Regions from separate parts of the Homo sapiens genome. Here region 1 is linked to region 2. Evidence: fine-mapped expression QTL. A gene starts in region 2. The other region holds a variant in brackets. All regions are shown on one strand. Distances are between the middles of the regions. Region 1 has its middle 32 kb from the start of RGS18. Region 2 holds the start of RGS18 (regulator of G protein signaling 18).

Region 1 (5,402 bases), 31 kb after region 2:
ACCTCATCAGATGCTAAGCCTTAGCTATGGCATTAACTAAATTTAAAAAGACTAATTTATTTTCATTGTGCCACATTGGCTGGTCTTATATTTAATTTCCTGGCTCTTTATCATCTGTCTAAAAAAGAAAAAAATTACCAACACAGATGTAACCACGTTCATTTAGCTATATCATTTGAAGCCTTTTCAACAATAAAAATAAAAATTCGTACAACTTATCAAAACTCATGTTCTATAACTTGAATAAATCAACAAGTATTTATTGAACACTTTCATTTGATTGCTACTGCTAGCTTCTGAGCATTCAAAAGTGAATTTAACAGTGGGAGTGACAGGGAAAGAGAGAGAAAGAAAAACTCTCTTCATAGTATATTGTCTGATAAAGCTTGCATTCTGCAATACGCAGCTGAAAGCCATGTTTTAAACTTTTCTTCGTATGTATCCCAAATAACAAATCCTTCTACGACCAATCGTGCAGATTACCATTTATCTTTTGAAGCTAGGAGTTAAGTAACTAATTTCCTCATTTATTTAAGGACAATACAAAAGATTCACTAACTTGCATATCTTTGTGCATCTTTTATAAAACAAAAGAGGAACTGAAAGTATATGTATATATAAATACATTTTATTATGGGTTTGAATTTTTTGGTCATTTTATTGGTTTTGCTCTATAAATCAACCAATTATAGAAGGGTCCTTTGAAGATGAAAAAACACAAGTTTTAAGAAACATTTACAAAATTAAATCACTTGGGAAACAATACAAATTTAGCAGCACAGGTAGTAAAATATTACATTTGGAAAATTTTTTTAAAAATCAGATTCAGCTGTGTTTTTAGACATAATTATTTAATAGTAAACATATACATTTACCTGGAATCTTACCTACTAAATTTTATAGAGTAGAAATGAACCTTTTAGAAGTAATAAGCAAAGCAACTATTTTAAACGTCAGACATTTGCTAAAACAACAGTATTAAATTTTAAATAGTTTGTCTACAGTCTTATTATTTTTTATTGTGTTATCTATCTGTAAAAAACATAAAATTGTGGGAAAAATGAAGACTGAATCATTGTTAAATGTTGATCCACTAAAAAGTGTCAAAATTCTTTTTATTGGATGCAATTTACTAGAGCAAGAAAGTGAATAAAAAACATTTGGAAAGATTGCCATCAACATGTAAAACCCAACAATCATTTTTTCAACATGGAACTGTTGTTACATGTAAAGAAACTGAAATATTGAAACATGAATCCAAGTGAGATCAAATCAGTATCAATGATAGCAGGAATAAATGTATTTAATAATCCATAGTTTGGAATATCTTATACTTCATTTATCGTTATTTAATCATAGACTCCTGTAGTTCAACAAATGTTTGCCATGCTTCACCTCTGTCCCAGTCACTATATGGAACAGTAGTGATACAAAGACAAATAAAATAATGTAAAGGCTATCACTGTAGTATTTAAATGAACGGTGTTCCTATGTAGGCAAACACAAAAATCAGTCATTTCACTATGACATGTGAAACATTGATATATAATATATCTTGACTTCCTTGTGTCTAAAAAATGGCAAGACAATTTCATGCAACGTAGCTAAACAGCAGAGTCATGTTGCTGTGCCTTCACAATATGTCTGAGTATATTTTATAATATAGGATTAGGTATTAAATTGCTATATTCATACTGAAATCTGCTTTAAAATCTCAATCTCTAGAAACCGGAATTGATCTCATAAATGAGCATCACTCACATTAGAATGCAAGCTCCCAGAAATGTATTCAAGTTACATTAATAGAAAATTATTTAACATAGAGGCTTTGGAAGTAAATTTTTGATAGAATTGTGAAAGAATGTTAAGAGATACTGATAAATGAGTATCAACCAAAAGATCATACACGTATGATAACTGAGAGAACTAAATAAGTTCACTGGAAAATCATGATTCAACCCATGAAATCCTATTTATTTGTATTATTCTTAAACACTTCTATTGAAAAATATAATAAACACATTATCTAAAAAGTTTGCATGATCATGAAGGGAACACTAATCTTGCAGTTTGGCCCCATTACATATTTTTTCTTTAGTAATCACCTCACCATATATTTTCTTCTGTTGTTTTTTGTCTGTTTTATCTTTTCTCCAGGCAGATACTTTGACAAAAATTTGTAAATAAAAAGTTTTCAGCGTGTTACACACGCAGGAGTGTGTGCGCGCGTGCACACACACTCAGAGTTTGATTTTTGAAAGGGAATATATAATTATCATAATCATTTCTCAGTCAATTGGGTAAGAGTGTATTTTCTCTGCTGTGGAATATCAGTATTTCTTCCTCATTGAAGAAAGTCTTTAGGGAAGTGTTTGGAGTGATGAAATAAGACAACACTTAAATCATTCAGAAGACTTTTATGAGAAAACTGGGATTATAAATAACTGATAATAGTAATTGGAGAAATCAATAAAATAGTAGTTGTAGTACTTCTAAAATCCCGTAAAAATAAGCATTATTTAGATCACTGAATATTGCAAATTATTGATGGAGTTCACTCCAGCAACTGCCATTATCTTTCTGAGGAAAAACAGCATTTCACGTTCATTTTTCTCATTTTTCATAGAGTCTCTGAGGCCTTTAGAAACTTAAGAGTATTTTAGATAGAAAGTCCCATTTTCTTGAATGGCTGAGTCAGCAAACACATCTCTAGAGACAGAGTTAAGTAATTATTATAGCATATTATAATATTTCAAAGCTAATTTTTCAACAAATGATTGACACATGTCTAAATGATCTTTAACATAACAAAAAAGGTTACATGGGGGAAATCCTTTAATTTCAAGGACATATATATTGGTAATAAAAACAATGTATATATTCTGGAAAAAAGATTACAGAAAAGTGAAAATATAATATTCTGAACCACCATCTCTACTCTAAAATCATACCATGGTTTTTATAAAGGGTTATACAGTGTACATATTGAAGAGTTAACATGATTAATTGTACATATCACTTAAAGACAAATAAAAAAATGTAAGGAGCATAAGTTGAATAAAAAAGAAGTCTAATTTTCCATTCTAGAAATAAACATTTTAACATTTATATTCTTCTAATATTTTAAAAATCTACAAATTTTTTTCATTGAAACAATGGATTATG[G/A]ATATGAATATCAATTTTCATAGAATTATATTAATTACAAAAATCAAGTTTTAAAGATAGTATTAATGTGTGAAAAAATACTTATCTTAATTTTTAAAATGTACTGTATGGTATTAACATGAACTAGAACTAGATTGAAGTAAAGAATAAAATATATTCAAATCTCAAAATGGAAAAATGATTATATATTTGAGGTAAATCCTAGACAGAGTATATTAAAAAATTGGATTATAAAAAATATGAAGATAAAGAATGAGAAAAAATAGAGTCCAAAAACAGACAGACAATATTGATGTAGTAATCATTCTAAAACGCAGTATTTCGTTACAAATAATGCACATTGTGATATATTTTGAATAATAAAAGGTTTGCAATATTTGAATTGTCTATTAAAAGCATGACACTGTTCTGTTATGGGAAATCTACTTCATTACTGGGAGCTGAATAAGACACTCTGCAGATTTTAAAAATTTTATTTCATCTTTAAACACTAGTGCTGGAAGGAAATTAGAGTTCATGTCCCAACAAACCTTCACACTTTGTAGAACAGAATAAGGAAGTCATTTCTAGACTAATTTACAACATTAATAAAGAAAGAATTTGAGTAAAAATGTCACTCAGATATCAACCAATATCATTTATGTATTCCTCTCATCAACCATTAATTTATTAGTACCTACAAAGTATCAAGATTCTCTTCTAATAAAACAAAATGTTAGATATGTTCATTATCCTGCCACAAGAGTTATCTCATTTACTTTAATGGAAATTAAATATTAATCAAAACTCAACATGAAACTACATTATTTCCTTGAAATTTACTTTTGCTAATGTTATGCTTGTATGTGTTCGTAAACATACACATACGTAATTGTTGAAAGAAATGCAAGCTATATTAAAATTAACTTTTTTAAACTTTATTTATAAAACACTAAGAACACTAGCATTTAACTGAATGCTAATCTTTGGGAGAGTGAACATTTAGAGAATTTTATTTCATGAAAGAAATGAAGTAAATTAATTATATTTATTAGGATAGTATTTGAATGTAAGATATAATGCATGGCACATAACCATATTAAAATTTTAGTCATATATGTACACATATGTCCTGTGCATATAATTTCAGACTTTCAGAGTTTTATAAGAACTTAGATACTTAATAATACATTTTATGTTAAAATTGCATATTTAATTGAATAAATACTCAATTATTAAATACCAAGTTATTTCTGTCTTTGGCTTTAAAAGCCAAAGATATGTATTCATATGTCTGTTATGTTCATTTATAACTATAAGCCACCTTCATTTTTAGATATTAGGTTAAATAATTTTATAACAATGGGCACTGCTAATCTATTTTTTTGTTTTATAAAATGCCTCATTGCTTCTCTTTAATGTTTTATATATGCTACATATACTGAAATATTGAAAAGTATCTAGTATTTGCTTGTTTCCAAGATTCTAATTCATCTATAAAATAAATACTAGAATTACTAACACTGGTTAAAATCAATAGTATAAAAGGTGAACATTTAAATTATATAGTAAGTTTGAGCACAGAGGTTAATTTTTCCCTTCCACATTATATGGCTGACTCTTTGGCAAAGATACAGAACGGTTTGTTTGATCAAGTTCCTTCAAAAGGTAAGTAATGATTTAGACCAGACTTGACATCAACAACAACAAAAAAAGGTTGATATCAAATTTAAAATTATGATGACACTTTTACAGGTGTTTATAAACATTCTTTTTAAAAATTCAAATTGTGCTACATAAAAAAAGAATTATAAAAATATAGCAAAACAACAAATTAGAGAGAAGGAAATTTAAACTTTAACAGAAATACTACAGTGGGGGTGGGGTAGGGATGGGAGGTTTTGGGAGAACCAGAGAATTGGCACAGTATTTGAATGTAAGTCATAATCCCTATGAAAATGTGTTCAAATAAGAAAGAATTTTGTACGTGTTTTAATACATTTTCTGTAACTGACATCATAGACTTTATTAAACCATTATTAGATGTTTATATTTTGTATTTGACAGCTCCTCAAGTTAACAAGCTTAACAGTTTTACTACCTCAGACATTATTATTATTTTACTTCTTTTAAAACTGAAATTTCTTAAAGAACTAATTAGGTCTTTGTTTTACTTTGGATTCAGCCAACAAGTCTGTGTTCATACTCGTGATTTTACGGATTTGGTTATTTTATCTCTCAGGCTTCATCTTCCTAAA
Region 2 (5,402 bases):
CTCTGCCTCAGCCTCCCCAGTAGCTGGGATTACAGGCACCTGCCTCCACGCCTGGATAATTTTTGTATTTTTAGTAGAGATGGGGTTTCACCATCTTGGCCAGGCTGGTCTTGAACTTCTGACCTCATGATCCACCTGCCTCAGCCTCCCAAAGTGCTGGGATTACAGGTATGAGCCACCGTGCCCGGCAACTTGTGCCCGTATTTTCACAATTTCTTTTTCCACGGTTCTATCAGCATTGTGTATAGCACACTTCACACATAAATTTAACATATCTTATGAAAAATAATATATTGATTTTATGTCTTTAACTTCTCTGAGTTAACAGTTAAGTTATAGTCCTAGTGACTGGATGATGTCCATGCTCCTATGATTTTCTCTTGTGCTCATTCACCTTCATAGGATTAAACTGATATAAACACAGTGGATACTAATCATTACTAGGGGACAGCAGGGTGGAAGCATAATCTGCATTATCAGTATCCATTTCCAGCAGAAGCTCAATGCAAAATGCCATCATACATAATATTTTTCAATTCTCAGCCAAGGTGAGAGATTTAAAATATGTTCAAAGTACAAGTCATGGAATCAGGGGGTATATGTATAAATATATACTAGAAAGTCTTTAATTTCATATAGATAAATGTTTTGAGCTTTTAGCTGGTATCCCTGATAAATTGTCTTGGTAAAAAAATAATTCAAAAAGACTGAAAATAAAATTTTCTTTTAGGTTTGTATAACTCAGCTTTCAATATATACCATTTTAGATTAAAGCATTCACTACTGGAGATCAAAGATTCTTGGAAGGACTAAAGCACATAGTAGGTGATCAAAGGCTCTGATAATTCCAGATTTTCCACTGGCCTGTCTCTGAAACTTTGTAGGATTAAATTACCTAATGCCTGTGAACTTTGGTTTATTTTTCAATAAAATTTGAATTATGGACTAGAACTGCATTTGTAAGACTTTTGTATTCTATAAAACAGTGAAAGAAGTGGAGGCTAAACCAATTGGAGTTGTCAACATTTTTTTTAATAAAGGCATTAAAATATAAAAACTACCATCTCTACTTAATCCATGTCATTATAAAGAACATTTTTACATTATAAAGAACATTTTAACAACAAAAGAGTCAGGAGAGCAAATTCAAAATAGCAAGTCCTTTATATCAAAGGAATTAAAATAAAGCTTTAAGAAAAAAAACTTTTCATATTTTTTTCCATTTCATCACAGACTGATAAAAATTTCAAAAATGTCTAAAATCATTCTATAGATATGTGCTTAAAACTTTATTTATTTATTTGAGACAGAGTCTTGCTCCGTTGCCCAGGCTGAAGTGAAGTAGCCGGCATGATCTCAGCTCACTGCAACCTCCGACTCCCAGGTTCAAGGGATTCTCCTGGCTCTGCCTCCTGAGTAGCTGGGACTGTAGGTGCACACCACCGTGCCTGGGTAATTTTTTGTATTTTTAGTAGAGATGGGGTCTCACCATGTTGCCCAGGCTGGTCTTGAACTCCTGAGCTCAGGTAATCTGCCCACCTTAGCCTCCAGATTACAGGCATGAGTTACTGTGCCCAGCCCAAAACTGTTAAATTAAATGCTTTCTACAATCTTTTTTTAACCATAAAATTCTGATCTATTGTCTTATTTTGTTACAATATGTTAAGCCAATGTAATTAACATTACATAATCTTATGTCAGTTAAATGTGATTTACTTAACTCATGTAATAACAATAAGAAAAATACTTTTTTAAGAACTGGAGAAAATATCTCCTAATGTTTGATATAATACTTTGCCATAACACATTTTAACACACAGTCCACACATTTAAAAACTTTTTGAAAAGTTCCTGTGGGAAATGACAGTGTTATTTGAGTCTATTAAAGCATCATTCTGGTTGCGCAAACTTGAACGAGAAGTTGCACTGTGGTAAGACTAGTCTTTATCTTAGAGACCAAGAGTCATTTTGCAAATTTGTGGTATCATTTCCCTAAACAACTTAGGACCAAATTGTACTTCATTTCCTCAGTTCTGCATTTCTGCAGAGACAGAAAGAAACGCAGCTCTTGACTTCTTTTTTGTAAACATTACTGTAAGAGTTGTGATAACTTTTTATTCTACTATGTATATGTATGGAATAGTATTAATAAATGAACTAGGGAAGGATGTAATAAATTAGACATCTCTTCATTTTAGAGAGAAGATGGAAACAACATTGCTTTTCTTTTCTCAAATAAATATGTGTGAATCAAAAGAAAAAACTTTTTTCAAGTTAATACATGGTTCAGGAAAAGAAGAAACAAGCAAAGAAGCCAAAATCAGGTAAAATTGTACAATTTTAAGTCAGCCTTATACTTTTAAAAGCATAATTGAGGTTGAAGATTCATTACCTCTTGTTTTTGAACTATTGGGTGGAAAATATATTGTTTGTATTGCTATAATTTGGGAAAAAAAAACACCTTTTTATTTCTTAGGTTTAAACAACAAACTGAAATCTAAAGTGTTCTCATTAAAAAAAAAGTGTAATAATGTTAGCCACATAGAGGAACTAGTGCAATCTTTATTGAAATATAATCTCAAATACTTGATTGTCGGTGAGCAAAAGGAGAAACATTTTCGTATGTTACCCTAATTCCTCCACAAATACAATATTTAAATGGGATTCATGAGTGTGTGGGTATGGGTGGGCGTGGGTTTTTACCAACTACAAAATTTTCTGGTAGTCAGCAGGAGAGATTTTAACTGTCATCTAAATTGTCCTGACATGAAGGCCTTTTTATTACAGAGCTAAGGAAAAAAGAAATAGACTAAGTCTTCTTGTGCAGAAACCTGAGTTTCATGAAGACACCCGCTCCAGTAGATCTGGGCACTTGGCCAAAGAAACAAGGTGAATAAATTTTCAGTATTTTGAGGAAGATTTTGCTGATTCTATCATTAAAGATTTAAGAAAAATGCAGTTAGGGATTTCTGATTTATTGAAAATTACACAGCAATATAAGGAAAGTTAGAAATTTCATTTGAAGAGACTAGAAATATTTCATAAAATTAAATCACTTGAATTAAATCGCTTGAATTGAATAATCACGTGAACACTTAAAGCTGCTCTTTTAAAATTATATACCTGTCAGTTTTAAATGACATGTTTTACTCCTTATAACCTGATAAAATGCTCATTAATTTAAGAGTTTTCACAATGCAATATTGTCATAGCAGAGAGATATTCATCTCTTTCTTCAGTAGTTTGAAAAAACACACGCATTATAGCAAGTAAAGCACAAATAATGTCTTTTAATACTTAGCATTTATTTAATTCAAAAAGAAAATGCAAAAACCTTATATACTAGTTTCATACAAATTCTTCCAAATTAGAGTATAATAAAAAAGATCCGAGAAAATATATTCAATTCTCCACATTACCAACATCTCTAGAATATTTTTTCTATTAAAATATCTTATATTTCTTATCCCTTTGAAACTTTATTAGTCAAACTTCCTGTATCCGTTTAAAAAAAAAATTTGCAGCCTAGTGTGGTTACAGCTTCAAGGAAATTGCAGTATAATTTTTTTTTAACTGAAAGATACTGTGAGTTTAGTTTTTTTCTACTTGCTGAATTTAAACAGATAGTTGACCTGATTTCTTTATATTTGTTATCTGTGCCCTTTAACCTAAAAAAGGATTAATTTTTAATTAAAAAATAAAACTCACATATCCATGAGAAAAAAAATAATGTTATTTCAACACATTATTCAACAGACAAATTCCAAAAGAAAATTGAACAATGTTTTCAAAGTTTCTAATGTAAATGCAATTTTCATTATATTATAATCAAAGGAGAAACTGTGAAATATAATTGAAAAGAGCAGTAAAATAGCATATGTTAGAACAGATTCATAAACAGACTTTCTGCACACTCCATTATAAAACATTTTGTTTCTTGTACAGAGTCTCCCCTGAAGAGGCAGTGAAATGGGGTGAATCATTTGACAAACTGCTTTCCCATAGAGGTTAGTGGTACTTTCACCAAATACTTTGTGTGCTTAATGGAAAATTACACAAACTATGCATGTAATTATCCGAAACAATAGGTCACAAAATTTTTGTCTGATTGTTAATTTTCAGTAATTCAATTTTCTGATCAACAGAACTAAGTAATAGAAAAGTCAAATAATGGAAATTTTTTTAAAAGTTCTCATTTTGTTTAGAATTACCTACTGTGGATGAAATATTAGTTATTTATACTGTAGCTAGTTTCAGTTTTTAAATTTTTCCGATTTTTGAATGAAATCTTCGGTTTTATCAAATTCATGATTAACGAACTATTCATGTTAGTTTCATTGTTCAAGGATTAAAAATATCAAGTAATTCTTTCGATGGACATACAGGAAACCCACATAAACACAGTTTTTTTTGTTTGTTTGTTTTTGTTTTTTGTTTTGAGACGGAGTCTCGCTTTGTCGCCCAGGCTGGAGTGCAGTGGCGCCATCTCGGCTCACTGCAAGCTCCGCCTCCGTTCAGGCCATTCTCCTGCCTCAGCCTCCCGAGTAGCTGGGACTACAGGCTCCCGCCACCACGCCCGGCTAATTTTTTTGTATTTTTAGTAGAGACAGGGTTTCACCGTGTTAGCCAGGATGGTCTCAATCTGCTGACCTGGTGATCCACCCGTCTCAGCCTCCCAAAGTGCTGGGATTACAGGCGTGAACCACTGCGCCCCGCTCCATAAACACAGTTTTAAAAAAAATTTATAAATTCTTCATTCTGTACTTCATATCAATTGTCTATTTTTAAAGCAGAATTTTGTAGAAATGTTGAGAATCGAGTATGTATTTAAGGTGGAGCTTTGTCTGTGAGATGGAGGGTGAGGACAAGCATCAAGGCCTCATTTGACTCTGGAACACTGTTATAATATAGCATGGCTTAGGAGGCAGGCTCCCTGGATTGCCACTCTTTAGGGTCAATTTACATAAGGTAGCAAGTGAGTGAACTTTGTTGTCTGTATTCATTTTATGCTTTCTTTCAGATAGAAAGACTCAACTGAGCAGGTGATGCAGCTAGGTAATCACAGATTTATTATTCTCCACCCTGAACTTGTCAGAGTCTGCAAAAAAAGCAATGCTTTATCATTACCAAACATCCACCTCAAGCCCACAGCTTTTTTTTTTTGCACTTTAAACTTGTCCAGTTTCTCACCTTAGTCTTTGAAATACAATCATTTCCCAGCTCTTCCCAGACCCTTCCAAGATGAGGTTAGCCAGACTACTCTAACTACTCCTTGTAGCGTTGCCCGTGTCTTTCACAATTTTAAGGTGTCTACTGGAAGAAAGGATTCCTGTTGCCAGGACAGTTGGGAGTGGAATATTTGTAATTCACCCTCAAATACTATGCTCCATTTAATGTAACAA

Evidence for each region. PIP is the estimated chance that this variant, and not a neighbour inherited with it, causes the effect.
Region 1: its variant is the best candidate, but not a certain one, in a credible set for the expression of RGS18 in whole blood (TOPMed, PIP 0.75).

Annotation. Positions count from the first base shown.
Region 1 is chr1:192,187,565-192,192,966 of GRCh38, forward strand. No RefSeq gene overlaps it. Among named protein-coding and RNA genes, the nearest start is that of RGS18, 32 kb to the left of the region's middle. The variant G/A (reference allele first, on the strand shown) is at 3,166.
Region 2 is chr1:192,156,433-192,161,834 of GRCh38, forward strand. It overlaps RGS18 (regulator of G protein signaling 18), which reads left to right and starts at 2,030. Exons shown (of 5, transcript NM_130782.3): 1 at 2,030-2,324; 2 at 2,788-2,889; 3 at 3,946-4,007. The coding sequence starts at 2,206.